2 linked regions of the Homo sapiens genome follow. The protein of the gene in region 1 purifies or fractionates together with the protein of each later gene. This does not show direct contact. Each region holds a gene or a part of one and is shown on either strand. Other genes may lie near its edges.

The links.
Region 2: the proteins of SCGB1D2 (region 1) and FSTL1 purify together in Homo sapiens (affinity purification with mass spectrometry; one large-scale study listed by BioGRID and IntAct). This does not show direct contact.

What each region holds. Positions count from the first base shown.
Region 1 is NC_000011.10:62,240,767-62,245,282, reverse strand, and holds SCGB1D2 (secretoglobin family 1D member 2 precursor), read right to left. Parts: upstream 3,045-4,516; 5' UTR 2,976-3,044; coding exon 2,921-2,975; intron 1,995-2,920; coding exon 1,807-1,994; intron 614-1,806; coding exon 584-613; 3' UTR 471-583; downstream 1-470. UniProt on the Homo sapiens protein: May bind androgens and other steroids, may also bind estramustine, a chemotherapeutic agent used for prostate cancer. May be under transcriptional regulation of steroid hormones.
Region 2 is NC_000003.12:120,398,698-120,402,510, forward strand, and holds part of FSTL1 (follistatin-related protein 1 precursor), read right to left. Parts: intron 1,263-3,813; coding exon 1,186-1,262; intron 1-1,185.

The sequences.
Region 1 (4,516 bases):
CAATGTGAACTCCAGGTTGAAACCTAAAGAGGACCCCAAATTGTGATAAGTGGAAAATGAAGTATACTGGACATGACGGAGGACAGAAAGCATAGTGCAGAGAGAGCACCAAGCAGGCTGACTGTGGGTCTGAGGGGACATCAGAGTAAAGTCACTGATAGGTGGGAACCCTCGGCCTGGATACCCATTCAGGCTGGGGGTTCTCTCAGTGTAAGACCAGTGGAACATTTCAATTCCTGTGTCCTTGTTACCATGGTTTTTATTCACGGCTGCAAGATGGGAAATCTGTAAGGAATGCAGGATAATTCCTACCAAATATTCTCCTCTGTGACACCTGGACTCAGGCCCCATTAGTAACAGGATGCTGGTTCTCTGGAGTTAATTATCACCCACAGCAAAAGGCCACTCCACTATGGAAACCACCCTGTACTCAAGGCTCGAGACTGCAGGATTATAACAAGACCAGTGGAGACGTGGAGAGCAAGTGATTTATTAAAGCAAGACGTTGAAACCTTTACATTCTGCAGTGAAGATCAGGGTGTCATTGAAAGACAGTGGAAACCAGGATGAAAGTTTTTACATGTCACACACTACATTTCTTCAATATTTTCACCTAAAATAGGAAAAGAAAAAAGAAGGTGGGGTCAGTCATGCTGCTGCTGGAGGTGACAGGCTCACATCCAAGAGGCCAGTGGGATTCTGCCCCCAAAGGCAATTGGAAGGGCAGAGGCAACAACTCAGTTTGGGAAACTGAGGCCTAGACCTGGTGGCCTCACAGCACCCATGCCGGTGATGGAGCAGCCTTTTCTTGCCAGGCCAATAGCCCTGGGGTGATCCGGGAATGAGGCCCAGGATCCTCATGGAAGCAAGTGACGAGGGTTGGAGAGAGCAGCAAGAGGTTATTGCCTGGGCTGTCCCAGGGCTTGGAGTCTCCTGGTTCCTGCAGTGAGGGACCCAGGACTGAGAGGCTGGTCAGGGCTGAGAGGGCTTCTGGGAAGCTTGGCTTCCAGGAGACTCCAGCCTCCCCATGTGGGAATTCTGCCTCAGGGCCCGAGCACCTCTCAGTCCCGAGCCTGCAGCTTCCATGAGCATTTGCAGCTAAACCTCAGGACAGCAACTCAGAGGCAGCCAGGCAGAGAGGCCCCTGGAAAACCTCTGATTTCTTGAGAAAGACAGAGTGAGAACATCCCGCTTCCATGGCACTGCAGGAGGTAGACTAGCTAGGGTCTTGGACGACTGGCCATGGTCAGGAGAGTGTCGTGGGTGTGGAGGGGAGTATGGGGTCTCAGGAGCTGGGAGGGGCTCCTTCCTGGCTCTGCAGAAGCTGCAGAGAAGTCCAGCCTGCCAGTGCTACATCTGCAGGAGCCCCTGCTCTATGTCCCTCCCTGCCTTCCTCTCCCTGTTCAAGGCTCCCATGCTCCCCAGGACATTCCACAGTGACTGTGTCCATTACATGAGGGCAGTTTGGTCTCAGGAAAGCTCCCAGCAGCGAGGCGGCCATGCTTGGCCCTTTACCATTTCTGCCTGGGCCCAGGCTCACTCCCCATGTCCTCAGCACACTCTGGGGACATGGCATCCAGGCAGGTGACATGAGAAGGAGGAACATGCAGGAGGCTGTGTGCAGCTGAGTTGAATTCTGCAGGTGAAATGGTGGCACCCACCCTGTGGCCCCAGGTGACCTTCTCAAGAGGTGACCAGCAAGGCAGCTGCCCCACCACCTGTGTCCCCAACAGAGCAGCAAGCTGACCTCACTTCATACTGTGCAGCTGACCAGAAGCCTTAACAAATAAAGGAGAAAGAAGTTACCAGGACTTCCGCAATGAGGCTTCGTTTCTGAAGGGACATCTGATCCGTGCATCTCTTCACTCCTAACTTGGCTGCAACAGCTTCCGGAGGGGCATCAAATTTGGCAAGACTTAACTTGAACAGAGGTTCACTAATGAAGAAGAAGTCTAACAGCTCAGAAACAAGAGCTGGGCAGAACTCGGCATTGGCTGCAGCAAAAGAATAAAAATATAGTTGATGTTAGGAAAGTCGATTTTTCTCTTTGGCTCCCTGACGTTAGACCAGACAGGATCCCCTGGGTTATATGTTCACATACATTTGTTGTGCTGATGACAATGCCAGACCCTTCAGGTGTGACTTCCTCAAGCTCTCACAATAAAGGAAAGCACTTCATATCAACAGCCAAACTCTTTTTTTTCCCTTTGTCACCCAGGCTGGAATTCAGTAGCTCAATCATGGCTCACTGCAGCCTCTACCTCCTGGGCTCAAGCGATATCCCCATCTCAGCCCCCTAAGTAGCTGAGACTACTGGTGCATGTCACCACGTCCAGCTGATTTTTCATATTTCTTTTGGTAAAGCTGGAGTTTCGCCACGTTGCCTAGGCCGGACTCAAACTCCTGAGCTCAAGCAATTCACTCTCCTTGACCTTCCAAAGTGCTAGGATTACAGGCATGAGCCGCCATGCTTAGCCCACAGCTAGACTCTTTTGACAGTATTAATCTTTCTTACTCCATTCTCATAGCCTCTCCTGGCAGAAGCGCTAACTACCAGTGATAGGAGGAGGCTCAGGGAGGGTGAGCATTGTGCCCAAGGTCAAAGGGCTGGGAAGTGGCGGATCCCAGATTCACCCCAGACCTCACATTACATCATCTGACACAGATCCCACCCAGGAGTGAAGCTCAGGCAGAAGAATTCCTAATATTTGCCTGCACTGATTTTCAATAAAACTTCGTAGGTGCTGGGGAGTAGAAGAAATAGCTCTGAACTTGATGAGGGGCTTGTTCAACAAGCACAGAAAAAGGTTTGGAATTTTGGTTTTGTGCAGATCCTAACCCCAGCCTGAATAGGTGACCTCGTGCTTGGAAGAGGGTGCTTCCCAGGGGCTGGAGCTAGACTCATGACTGATGTACTCACCCTGGTAGCAGCAGAGGGCCAGCGTGACCAGCAGGAGACACACCGACAGCTTCATGGTGGCTTGTTTTGCTGTGAGCTCAGCTTTCACAAACAATGAGTGATTTGGACTCCACCCCAGGAGCCTGTGGAGCTGCAGAGCCCAGGGCTATTTGTACCTAGGGAGTCTAGCTGGTACTGGTCATGAGGCCTGGCTCCCAGCCCACCTCTCCTTCCCAGGGCTGTTGCCATCCATCTGTGTCACCTCCCCACGCCTCCCTGCACTCTGACTGGGGCAGAGCACAGGAGGGTAGCCCTGCAGGAACTCTGCTCTGTGTTCCAGGTGAATGTTCAGGCACCTCTGGAAATATTCCTGGGATTCTGTTTCCTTCTGAGTTTTGCTGATTATTTTTTTTCTTTGTATCAGTTCAAGGGCACAGGTAAATTCTGACTTTGGAAGGCACAGGAAGCTGGAAGGCTGTGTTCTGGTTATGGGGGAGCAGGGACATAAGGAAACCCTGCTTTGATCCCCCTGCATGTCTGACAACCAGTAGGCTTGTTTCAGTTGCACATTGAGCAAGTCTAAACAAGACCTATTCCCCTCAGCCCCTCCCATCACCACCATGTTCACTGCATAGGTACCTAAAACCTAGTTCAATGCATCTTACCTTTGGAGGATTTCCTGGGGAAAAGCAACTGCTGCACCTGTTCTCTAGCCTGTCTCACTCCCAAACCTGAGTCTTGTTTATGAGTGCAGCTATAAATATGGCCAAGACTCACATTTTCTCTCTACGAGGAGCAAGCTTTCTGTGATGTGTAGCCACCCACATGTTGATGGGTTGACCTGATGATTACATAGCCTAACTTTTTCCAAGTAGCTTTTGGAGTGTCCAGAGCCAATCATGCATCGGACAGGTACTGAGAGTTCTTTGCTCTGGGGCTCCAGGAGGGGAAGAAGATGGAAAAGAAGAGACAGATGATCAGGGTGAGTGGTCACTTCCCCCCAACCTCTAGGCTCAAGTTTTCCACTTCAAATCTAGCTGTGCAGCCTGAGCCAATCCCATTTTTAATAGAAAGGGAAGGAAGCACCCAGACAAAGCAATACACACCCTCCTGCCCTCCTGCTGTGATGCCTTTGTGTGGTGTGAGCAGGAAATCAATCACTAGAAATTTCTCTCTCTTTTTTGTTATTATACTTTAAGTTTTAGGGTACGTGTGCACAACGTGCAGGTTAGCTACATATGTATACATGTGCCATGTTGGTGTGCTGCACCAATTAACTCATCATTTAACATTAGGTATATCTCCTAATGCTATCCCTCCCCCCTCCCCCCACCCCACAACAGTCCCTGGTGTGTGCTGTTCCCCTTCCTGTGTCCATGTGTTCTCATTGTTCAATTCCCACCTATGAGTGAGAACACGCGGTGTTTGTTTTTTTGTCCTTGCGATAGTTTGCTGAGAATGATGGTTTCCAGCTTCATCCATGTCCCTACAAAGGACATGAACTCATCATTTTTTATGGCTGCATAGTATTCCGTGGTGTATATGTGCCACATTTTTTTAATCCAGTCTATCATTGTTGGACATTTGGGTTGGTTCCAAGACTTTGCTATTGTGAAT
Region 2 (3,813 bases), on another chromosome or scaffold:
TATGTGTACTTGCATCCTTGCCTCAGCATCTGCTCTGAGGGGACTCACATCAAACACAGAAACTTAAACATATTAGCTACTATAATTCACTCTGTACTGTCTGATAACTGTACTGTCTGATATTCTAGACGAAAGTAATTCCTATGAAGTTTTTTTCTCTTTCATGGGATTGAACTCATTTGGAGACTCAAGACTGGTGAAATTTGAAAAGCAAAAGACTAGAAGCTTTTGCTTCTGCTTAAACAACCGACATGAGATTTCTATACTATCAGTGACAATGATGACAAAATGCACATTAAGAATGATCAATAAATGGGCAATTACTATTAATAGTAATAGTTCTGTTTACTCATGTCAAATATTTCATATCAATAGTTTAGCAGTTCTTGTGACCATTATATTCCTTAAAAACTTCTATGTCAGAGAGAAGGCTAATACTACTACATTCGGTCTACGGACAGGTAATGGAAGGTGCAATATCCTGTATTAAGACTACATAATAAGCCAGTAGGAGGATGGGCCAGGAGTTCAACAGTTCCACAATATGTCAGAGCATCACTATTCTGCTAAGAACCCTTTCCCCAAGGAAGCCTTTAACTTAATGACATAGAACCTGAACAAAATTCTTATTATCTTCTTGAGTCTCTGGGAAGGAGACTCTTTGTTAACCCCAGGCTATTTTCTAGCCAGACTGATGTTGAACTTAAATCCTTTCTGCTGTGGCCCAAATCCACTGCTTTCATGCTCACTGAGTGCTGACTACATACCAGGCCCTGTGAGACTGCAAGGGTACAATGATGAGCAAGTTACAGAGCCTGCTTTCAGGAGCTCACAGTCTTTGGGTCTGGACACTGGTCATGACAGGATACACACTTCCTTAAACCACGCTCATTTGCAAACCACTTCCACCTCATTTGCAAATCACCACCTGCCTGATTTTGCCTTATGCAGCCACTCACCGAGCTGTAACCTATATGTGTTGAGACCTACTGGGCCCTGTGAGGACTTTATCAGGGAACTGTCTGTATCACAGTTTGATAGTACAGGTGATGGGGTATCACTCAAGATGTACTGTATTGAGCAGAGAGAGCCTCCTTGGTCTCCTGGGGCACTGGGCAGTGTTTGAATGGTATAGGGCCTGATGGCAACAGCAACACCTGAACCAGCACGGAGGCTGCCACTCACCTGATGCTTTTGGAGCTCCTGGACATATCTGGTCATCTCCTCCTCTGTCTGGGTCTGGGCCCCCTTCTGATTCTTTCCTGCAAGAAGAACCAAAGCTCAGAGCAGTAGCAGCTGTGGTAAGCCAGTGAGGAATCCGCCAAGATCTACCTAGAGGCTCTCAATTCATCTCCCATTTAACTTGTGGAAGGAGAGGTGAATTACCCACATTTTCTGAGTATGAAGGCATGAAGGGGCCCTGTGTAATTGATACCTCCAAGGTAACACATTGTAACAAAGCAATCTACCCCAACTCCTCTCTGGCCTTTGTTCCTTTAACTGCTTAGCACATCCCAGCCAGAAGCTGGCCCTACAAAAAAAGTTATGGTGAAAACTTGGATCCTGACACTGGAGATTTCTCTGAGACAATGACTCTCAAGTCATTCATATACCATCAAAATGTCCTGGAGAACATTTGAAAAGATAGCTGTCTAGTTCCACCTTCAGAGATTCTGATTTAATTGATGTGAGGTGAGATCTGGACACCAGTATTTTTTTACAAGTCTTTCTAGTTGGTTCTAATGTGCAGCCAGGGTTGACAACCATTTCATCTAGCAATGTTTCTGAAACTTGCACAGTGATAAACAAAAACAAAAACTACACAGGTTCCCAAGCTGCTCTTTTGCAAATTCTGATTTACTAGGTTTAGGATGAAATCTCTAGGCTTATCAAGTAGAATGCTGACCATTAGGAAACACTTCTAGGACATATCTTCCAAACATTGCTATCAACCTTCCCTTCACAGCAGTTTCCCTTGGCTCTGCCTCCTCCTGGCTTCAAATTTTGATGCCCCTTCTTGCTTGTCCCATTTTGATTTGTGATCTAAGATCAGACTGCTAACTCTCAGGTATTAACCTGAAAATGCCCCAGAATGCTGGCTCCACAAACTCCTCTTAGATCCACGGCCTACACATCCATACGTGCTCAGGCCCCTGGGGCACCACCATCTAACATGGGTTGCTCCATGTTATACCCACATAGAGTTCTGGACTTGGTCATCCAGGGAGGATGAGCAGCCCATAGCTGAGTGGCTGTGGAAATGGGCAACATCCCATGAAGCTGATCATTTGAATTTTGTCTGATGCATGTGATAGAGATTATTATCCAAATGACCATGCTTATTCTATAAGCCAACTGCATACCAACTGCCTGCACCTTAGAAATGGAGGGCTACCTTTACAAAGCCAGAACAGCAGCAGTTAGAAGCGGAGAGGTACTGAAGGGAGTTTAGGGAAGACAAGTATAGGATGCTTCATGGTTGAGGCAGGCTAGGCCACTGACTGTTTTGAGATGTGTTTTGTTGGTTTCAGTAGCAACTCTGTGTTTGGTCTGGAGATCCTGGCTTGGTCTTGACTTCTAGGAACTTGTAGGAATTTCTAGTCTCTAAACAGCCTCTTCCTGTTCCTTCACCTGTCCCTGTAGTTACATTGGTTTGCTGTCGTTCCACACTGAAAACAGACTTGGTCCTGGGCAGCGGTAGACCAGTGATACCTTAGATAGTACTGGGCCATTTATACTGTTGCTGTTCTCTAGGATCCTTGTCTAGAAGAGCCTCATCCTGGGTTTCTGACCTCTGTCTCCTAGTTACCATTTAACCTGATCTTCCTGAACATTATCTTAGGTTCCAGCCAGCTCTTCCTTGACACAGTTAACTTCTTAAAATAAACTTTTTTTTTTTTTTTAAGACAAGGTCTTGCTCTGTTGTCCAGGCTAGAATGCAGTGGCGTGACTATGGCTCATGGCAGCCTCAACCTCCCAGGCTCAGGTGATCCTCCCACTTCAGCCTCCCAAGTAGCTGGGACTACAGGCACGTGCCATCACGCCTGCCTAATTTTCACATTTTTGTAGGGACATGGTCTCGCTATGTTGGCAAGGCTGGTCTTGAACTCCTGGGCTTCCCACTTTGGCCTCCCCAAGTGTTGGGATTATAGGCATAAGCCACTGCGCCTGGCTGATATAACTTTAGGTTCACCCTAGCTGGTGAAACTTTTCGGCCTGGTTCCAAATGACCTTAAGGCAATTCTCCGTTGCAGACCTGGCTTCAACACCCTTCTCTGTCTTGCCTCCACTCTGAATATCCCTGGTTCTTTGCTAGGGCTCGGCTTTAAGAGTCCCTCTTGATCTTTGGCATCATTGTAGCCCAGGACCCAGATGGGACTCCAGTGGTTCCAACATACCCTGTAGCCTCACACTGCCCCACAAACTCTCAGATTTCTCTGTCTCCCCAGACCACCCTGCACATATCTCAACTAGCTCAACTTTCTCTTTTTAAAAAAGATTACCCATCTCTGTTAGTTGAAAGAGGGTCTACAAACATATTTTCTTTTTCTGCTGGGTATGGCAAGGAGAAGTCATTTTGTCTTCCAACCACTAGTCTTTTACCATTTCCTAAGGTGTTATAAGGATCAATGGGTTAATATGTAAAGTGCTTAGAAGAGAGCCTGGCACATGGTTTTTGCTGAGTATTTGCTTTCACTGTTACTATTCCATTATTATTTTTGATTATTATTAAATAATAATTATTGTTTTTATTTTAATGTTTTAATTATTAAATAATTACTATTTTTAATTATTATTCCATTATTACTACTT